Regions from separate parts of the Homo sapiens genome. Here regions 1 and 3 are each linked to region 2. Evidence: fine-mapped expression QTL. A gene starts in region 2. Each other region holds a variant in brackets. All regions are shown on one strand. Distances are from middle to middle. Region 1 holds the start of LOC124906233 (a long non-coding RNA gene). Region 2 holds the start of CDCP1 (CUB domain containing protein 1). Region 3 overlaps CDCP1 (CUB domain containing protein 1).

Region 1 (2,761 bases), 79 kb after region 2:
TTCTTTCTATAGAATAAAATAGCTCACTTTCTTTTCTTCCTAGGAAAAGGTTGAAAATGAGGAAAGTAATTTTGGTGATGACTCTAAGTTGAAATAAAATCTGTCCAAAAAAACAAACAAACAAACAAACAAACAAAAACCCCACATCATCTGGTAATTTAGGTTTCCTACATAGAGGGAGCTCAATAAAGTTAGTTCCCTTCCCTCTAGTTAAGAGTTTTTCCAAAACATAACAGTAATTTATTTTCCTCTCTCCTTCTTCTAACCCCTTTATGTACATTTTCTTGTCTCTTCTTTCTACTTCATTTTTGCACACAATAGAGTATTAAATTGTTTCTGATTTTCTTCATTTCCTGTTTCTACTTTTTTCCTTATTTCCCTCATGGCCCACCTCTCTGTCACTGAATCGGAAGACGGTCCTTCAATCAACAAATATTTATCGAGCACTCTGGGATACAGCGATGAGCAAGATAAGGGTCCTGCTCTGATGTGTTTTATATCTGGAGTGGGGAACAAACAATTACAAAATAAACAGCATGAGCTAATTAAGGAATTAAAACTGAATGATATAGAGAGTAACTGGGTGGCTATCTTTGAGTGGTCAGGAAAGGCCTTTCTGAGGAGGTTATATTTAAATCTTTTTTAAAATTATTTTAGTTTATTTTTCCATGAGTTATTGGGATATAGGTGGTATTTGGTTACATGAGTAAGTTCTTTAGTGGTGATTCGTGAGATTTTGGTGCACCCATCACCTGAGCAGTATACACTGCACCATATTTGTAGTCTTTTATCCCTTGCCTCCTTTCCACTCTTTCCTCCAAGTCCCCAATGTCCGTTGTATTGTTCTTATGTCATCTGAGGTTCTTTTAACCACAACTCCATGCCTGGAATTGACTGGAATCTCAGAGGGGGAAAGACCTTGGCACACCAGTCATTGGTCACCTCTACTCACCTCCTGCCCCAACTCCTACCATAGAGCTTAGTAGTCACGGCATCCCTGGGACCTCAGGAAAATGTAGAGAACACAAATTACAATAGGCTTCCAGAATCTTGGAAAAGTTCATTCACCCCATGA[A/T]GTCAGCAAGCAATGTGGATTCAAACTATGTGACACTTCATCCCAGGCAACAGGATGACCTGTGACAAAGGATGACATAGATTAAACCTTCATTCACAGTGTACAATCGGCCTGGTTTCCCCCATCTCTCATCACCATAACAACCAGCATTCTATAATAAGTATCCAGTCACCTAGAGACATGGGAAAACAATGCAGCAAATGTTGCTATGTTCCAATTATGAAGCCTTGGGTTCCGAGAGGTCTTATATGGCAATCTCATCCTCTGCTTTTGGGTTCTTGATCTCATGACATGTAACACCCACCCATGAGCACAGAAAAATTCCCAGGCAGGTTTTTAGATGCCCCTGACATCTTGAAAGAAAGATAGTATCCAGAGCCACATGTGACTTCCCGAATAATCAGCATCAAAAGAGAAAGAGAGTACCAAAAGCACTTAGGTCTGGCAACCTCCGTAGAAGGAGGATGAGGAATCCTAGTTCTAACTCTTGGGATTATATTAATGTCATAAACTGAACAGAAAGTACGCTATGGCTTTATTACCCTATAGAACATTAACCAGGTTTGTGTACAACTTAAAATGTTTATTTTGGTGTGCCTTTCCCAATTCTTCATATGCTCTCAGAACCAGCTTTTCATCTTACTGTTTCCCTCATTGCTTAATGAATTAAATAAGCTCTGTGGCTCATGTTCATCCTATTTTGTATGAGTCGTATTTTTGACTTTTTTTACTTACACTTTGACACAAGAACTGTCCACTGAACCTGCTGCCACAGTAATGAATGAGCCTTGTCCTCAGCCCCCTCACTCAAAACCCCGAGTCCCCCAAGAGGATGTCTTGTTGGCTGAGTCTAGCTCATAAGGTCCACCCCTGATTGTGCCAGGCTGGAAAGAGGGGTGATCCAACCCCTTTAGCACTCACAGTGGGAAACAGGTATAAATGCCCACAAATAAGCCAGAATGCCATTAGGAAATGAGAATAGTTACTAAGCAATCCAAAATGACAAATTTCAGTGTTCCTTCCTTAGGCCTCTAGTTTACAAAGGAGGGAGCTAAGGCTCAGTCCTAGTCCAGCTGTGTCACAGTCACCAGTTTGCTGCTCCTTGAGAAGCCACAGAGAACCAGTGGGGAGGGGACTGGCCTTTGAGGGCATCACTGCTGCTGGGTGGCTTGGCCCCTCATCTAAGAGTGTTCCAGAAGCAAACCCACAGAAACGGGCATCAGACAGTCATCCACCATTGTGTCAAGGAGTTTGTGGGGTGAGAGGCCCATGATGTTTGTGTACATGGGTATGTATTGTTGGGGCTCAGGAAATGATACCCCAAAGCATGGTGCTTTGGCATGCTGAGCACTTAGAATTAAAATAAATTGGAAAGCCTTAGAAGTTGCCCCAGAATCAAAGTCTATGATCTTCCCTTGTGTCTTCCCCCAAGCACAGGGAGGGCTCTCTCTGAAGTTCCCTCACCTAACTGAGGGAAGTTCTTCCAAAAGAGACACAATTGCCTTCAATTTCCTGTCTGAAATCTCATTAACCAGAGAAGATTAATCACTAGAGAAGAAGCTAAAGGTCACCACCACACTCAACTGGACAGATTTTTTTTGCTATTCTGAGAGATGCTACCTGAGAGATTTTACAGTGGGCTCTCCATAGCCACAGATTCCACATTCACAGATTCAACAACCATAG
Region 2 (2,761 bases):
TTAGGCTTAACTTGTCAAGCAATATTTCTGATATTTTGCATTCAATACACTGCCATTCTAGTACTGTTGTGGGTATTACTGTATGTGGGAAACAATGGTGTCATGGATGTTAGGAAAAGATGCTGGGATATATATGCCTGCTTAGAATCAGGAGAAAAGACAAATCTCCTTTCACCCTCCTGGTCAGCATAAATATTTTTAAAGATTGTTTAGATTTTTGTCAAGATTTCTTTCTCTTGATGAATTTGTCCTCGATTCAGTGGGGAGAACCAAGAGCCTCTCTTCGTTTCTCATCCTCTCCCTTCCCTCTAGTTCTCAGTTTTCCCATTTTTCTGCACAAGGACAGAAGTGGACTAGAAGATTACATCTAAGGTCCCGTTTAGCTCACGATACAGGCCCTCCCAGAGGTGGGGGTGTGGGCAGGGTCATGTTCCAAGTTCTGCCTCCCTCGATGGACTGTGGGCTCCCAGAGGGCAGAGCTAGCTCTATTCTCATGATTAAGGACATCGAGAAGGAAGGGGTGACGCTCCTAGGAGATGATTTCCCACCCCTGTCCACAAGGAGGATTGGGGCAGCCTGGAGAGGCTCAGTGCCCGCAAGAATTAAGCAGAAGTTGGGACTGGACTGTAAACTGATGCTGTCGCACATGCTTTGGTTCCTGTCCCAAGCCTCCCAGGTTGCTCCGGGTGACTCTGGCCCAGCTTCTGGCTATCCATGAACACAAGTAGTCCCAGGGAGTCATTCTGGCAGAACCCAGGTCTGCTAGCTAAGAACTCCTGAACCATCCGCAATCTCTGCCTGTGGCCTGGACTTGGTGTATGGCCGGCAGGGTGGAAGGAGAACCCACAGGGCCTCTGAAGACAGGCAGGTGGCACACCTGCGGCTGGGAGGATTTGGAAAAGGAGTCCAGCGCCATTCATTTTTCATTCATTTTCCAGCCCAACGTTTGACCTGAATGCTTCACGCTCACACTGCACACACTACTCCATTTATAATACAACTCGAGAAGGGCACATACTACTCCATCCACAGCTCAGTGAAGGGATGCATACTACTCTACTCACAATTCAACGAAGTGGTGCATCTGCCTCTAATTTACTAGCTACCCTGGGGACCTTGGACACGTTGCGTGTCTGGAAATACTGCAGGTGATGTGTGTGGAGTAGGCTGCAGGCTCACCGTCCTGCAAATACTAGCTGTACCACCACCGGCTTTAAAGTCCAACAGACCTCTGGCCCAAGTCAAGTAGCAGAGGATCCAGGGCTTGGGTGGCCCACAAATAGGATTCTTCTCCAAAACGAGGCGCATAATGGCCTTTGTCTCCTCGACAGAAAAGGGAAGGTAGACTGGCTTCCTCTATGGGCGACCTTCGCGACTCTGGAGAAAAAGACCTCATCATTCTCAGACTTGGGAAGGAAGACTAAGCCCGGAAAGGTGGGGACAAGTCCGCTCCAACGCCGCAATGGGGAGTAGTAGGGACCCAGCAACCCGGTGCCGGGAGCCCTGCACCCTGGGAGGGAGAGGCGGTCGCTGAGGCAGGAAGAGGAGGAGGAGAGAGAGGAGGGACGCACCGGGTCAGCTCGCGATCCTGCTGCGCAGGGCGGGGCTCGGGCCGGTCCGCCCGCGCGCAGGTGAGTGAGCCAGGGCGGAGCGCAGCTGCGCCGGGCTTGGGCGCCTGGGGCCGCCGCTCCCCACCGTCGTTTTCCCCACCGAGGCCGAGGCGTCCCGGAGTCATGGCCGGCCTGAACTGCGGGGTCTCTATCGCACTGCTAGGGGTTCTGCTGCTGGGTGCGGCGCGCCTGCCGCGCGGGGCAGGTGAGTGCCGGGCTTTGGAGGCGGATGGCGTGGAGTGGTGAGCTAGCCAGCCAGCGGACGCCCGGCGGAGATGCGGCCGAGGGACGCAGGGTGCGGAGGGTGCGGAGGGTGCGGAGAGAGGGCGGGGACGGCGTAGTCAAAATGCGCGGGTGGCTCCGGGACCCCCGGACTGTTCGGTTCCTGCGCGCGCCGCGTCGGGCGCGTGGGCCTTGCCCTCCTGGAGTCAACCTTGCCCTCGGCACGTGAGAGTGTCCCCGATCGGGGAGCCTCCCGGTCCGGGAGGATGAGCCCGGTGCTGGCCGAGAAGGCGGGAAAAGGAGCTCCCGGTAGCCGATCCCAGGCGACATGTCCAAGGTGGCGCGCCGTGCGCCCCAGGGTCTTTGCCGGGATTCTTGAAAGCACCCAGGCAGGGTGTGGGAAGAGATCTTTCCTCTCCAGGCTCGCCCTCTACCTCCTCGCCTGGTCCAGAGAGAAGGTGCAAAAAAAGTGCTTTCACGTCCGCATTTCCCACTAGATCCCCTTTTTCCCGTCCGCACGCTGCATTCCCCCTCTCCTAAAGTTGAAGAGCGTTGGTGCAAAAATGAAAGCGCCCGGATTTCTTTTAGGGGGTCCCAGAGAAAGCCGCCAGGCATCTGCGCCACCGCAGAGACTGGACATTCCCGCGCCCCTCGCACTTTTTGGCAGTGGACTTTGAGGGCAGGAGGCTGTTGTTCCGGGGATATGTGTGAATTTCGAGTTGTTTCGGTTGGGGGAAGGGACCAACACGTCCCAGTGACCTGTGCCAGCCAGGAAATGCCCTGTGGGCCCTGGATGTATTAGAACGTAGTAAATAACCTGGTTTCTTCATGTAAGAACTTGATGTGAGGCTAGTACAGGTTTCGCGAGATTAGTACAGGTTTTGTGTTTTTTAAATAGAGCTCTCCAGGAAGCCATGTGGGTTTGATTC
Region 3 (2,761 bases), 55 kb after region 2:
AGCAGAACATCTCGGTGACCCTTCGCACCTTTGCCCCCAGCTTCCAACAAGAGGCCTCCAGGCAGGGTCTGACGGTGTCCTTTATACCTTATTTCAAAGGTAAGGGGGGTCTCCCCTATCTCCATGCCCCTTTAGTTTAAGCGTTTATTTGATTTTAGTTTTGTGATCACCTTAATTAAGTTGCCAGTTTGGAAAGAAGGGATAGCTCAATATGCTGGTCCTTGCACAAGAAATTTGAAAGATAGTGAGTCCTAATCCTGACTTTACCATTAACCTAGCATGGAAAATTCCTGAGATTAGAAATAAAAAATGTTTCTGACAGTGAGAGGCGATGGTTGGTAGGCAGCAAAAACATTATCAGGTTTGAGTCTTTTTTGGAAGCAGGCAGGACGTAAATGAGAAATAGCCAGATATTCCCCAGTCCCGGATTTTTAAGGTAGTGACATAAAAATCCTTAGGCAGACATTTTTATGACTCTGCTTTTACAATTCAGAATGCAGTGCCGAGAGCACAGAGGGAGGAGCGTTGGGAGGGAGACGAGTCTCTGGAGCCAGAGTCCAGCAGCACGGCTGGGCAGACCCGACCCTCCTGGGAGGCTGGCATGTGGTCTCCATGTTCTGAGGCAGTAAATGAGGTCTAAATGGCTCACAACGTGACTTCTACATGGTTGACTTTAAAAGTCACAGTCACCATTACAAGTTGCTCCAAGAACATTAAGTTAGAGGCCATTTTAAAATTGACCAAGACCTTTGATGTTTATTTCCTACTCTTATTCTCTGAGGTGTGAGTGGGAGGGAGAAGAATCTTTGGTCATAAGATTAAGGTGGGTCCAGGCTGCCTGATATCTCCAAGGTTACCAGAGAAACTCCTTCTGAGGAGTCTTTGCAAATAAGACACATTCTCATCAGTGTGGAATGTGTGGGTTTTATCTCTCCTGAAGGTAAGGAAGGGATTAGTTGACGTGTCAGGAGCTCTTTCAGCTTTGCAGTTCCGGAACTCTTCCCAGAACCTGAAGATATTTTAATCTCTGAAACAGAAATCAGGCTATACCAGCCCCACCCCGGAGAGGGCAATAGATGAATATAGTAGCTAC[G/A]TTGAGAGCATTTCTGAAGGGAAGCTGAGATAACCACCAGTTTGGGAAACTTGCCTGGTTTTTATTTGCCTGTTTGTTTTGTTTTTTTTCAAAAGTCCTGAGTACCTACTCTGACTGAGACTGATCCAGCACTGACCAATACAGTGGTGCTAGCCACATAGCAATGATTTGAATTTAAATTAATATGAGGCTGGGCACAGTGGCTCATGCCTATAATCCCGGCTCTTTGGGAGGCCAAGGCAGGCAGATCACTTGAGCTCAGGAGTTCAAGAGCAGCCTGGCCAACACGGTGAAACCCCATCTCTACTAAAAATACAAAAAATTAGCCGGTCATGGTGGCTCATGCCTGTAGTCCTAGCTACTCGGGAGGCTGAGGCTGGAGAATTGCTTGAACCTGAGAGGTGGAGGTTGCAGTTTGCAGTGAGCCGAGATCGTGCCACTGCACTCTAGCCTGGGCAACAGAGTGAGACTCCCTCTCAAAAATAACTAATAATAATAAATTAACATGAAACAAATTTAAAATGCAGTTCTTTGGTCATGCTGGGCACATTTCAAGGCTCAGCAGACATATAGCTGGTGGCTACCCTATCAGATGGTGCAGATCTAGAAGATTTCCATCATCGCAGAAAGTTCGGTTAGACAGCGCTGGTCTGGACAGTTGGACTTCGTCTCCTCCACCACTCCCTTTCCTCTCCATGTTGACTGAATGAAACATCTGTCTGGATCTCCCTCCCTTTCCTGCAGAGGAAGGCGTTTTCACGGTGACCCCTGACACAAAAAGCAAGGTCTACCTGAGGACCCCCAACTGGGACCGGGGCCTGCCATCCCTCACCTCTGTGTCCTGGAACATCAGCGTGCCCAGAGACCAGGTGGCCTGCCTGACTTTCTTTAAGGAGCGGAGCGGCGTGGTCTGCCAGACAGGGCGCGCATTCATGATCATCCAGGAGCAGCGGACCCGGGCTGAGGAGATCTTCAGCCTGGACGAGGATGTGCTCCCCAAGCCAAGCTTCCACCATCACAGCTTCTGGGTCAACATCTCTAACTGCAGCCCCACGAGCGGCAAGCAGCTAGACCTGCTCTTCTCGGTGACACTTACCCCAAGGACTGTGGGTAAGGGCCTTCAGGGTCTTTGGGGACAGTGATGAACAAAAAATTGTCAGCTGGAGGATAGAGAGCAAGCCTGGAGACAAGTCAGAATCACAGATTGAGTCCTGACTGTCCATGTATCAGTCAGCTATTGCATCAATAGTGCTGAGTAACAAACCATCCCAGAACATAGTGGCTTAGTAGCAGCCATCTATTATTGCTCCAACGTTGGCTGGGCAATTCTGGTCTGAGCTGGACTTATCAGGGCTCAGTCATTCATGCACCTACTGGCAGCTGCAGGTTGGCTAGAGGACTTTGCTGATCTTAGCTTGGTGCTTTCAAAAAGCTGAGGCTCAGCCAAGATCATCTGAGACAACTGAGATTACTTGGCTTGACTCTACATGATCTCTTGTTCTCCAGCCTGGGCTGTTTTCATGGCAGAGGCAGAGAGATCCACAAGAGACTGGAGGAGGCATATAAGGTCTTTTGATACTTTTAGGTTAGGAACTCACACACCATCCCTTCGACTGCATTCTTTTGGCCAGCCTAGATTTTTTTTAGTCAATCTACCAGCATCCTTTA

What was found. PIP is the estimated chance that this variant, and not a neighbour inherited with it, causes the effect.
Region 1: its variant is fine-mapped to the expression of CDCP1 in testis (GTEx, PIP above 0.99).
Region 3: its variant is fine-mapped to the expression of CDCP1 in testis (GTEx, PIP above 0.99).

The regions. Positions count from the first base shown.
Region 1 is chr3:45,066,535-45,069,295 of GRCh38, reverse strand. It overlaps LOC124906233 (a long non-coding RNA gene), which reads right to left and starts at 1,139. Exons shown (of 3, transcript XR_007095898.1): 1 at 953-1,139. The variant A/T (reference allele first, on the strand shown) is at 1,076.
Region 2 is chr3:45,145,260-45,148,020 of GRCh38, reverse strand. It overlaps CDCP1 (CUB domain containing protein 1), which reads left to right and starts at 1,643. Exons shown (of 9, transcript NM_022842.5): 1 at 1,643-1,815. The coding sequence starts at 1,734.
Region 3 is chr3:45,090,615-45,093,375 of GRCh38, reverse strand. CDCP1 (CUB domain containing protein 1) reads left to right here. Exons shown (of 9, transcript NM_022842.5): 6 at 1-99; 7 at 1,838-2,203. Among named protein-coding and RNA genes, the nearest start is that of CDCP1, 54 kb to the left of the region's middle. The variant G/A (reference allele first, on the strand shown) is at 1,094.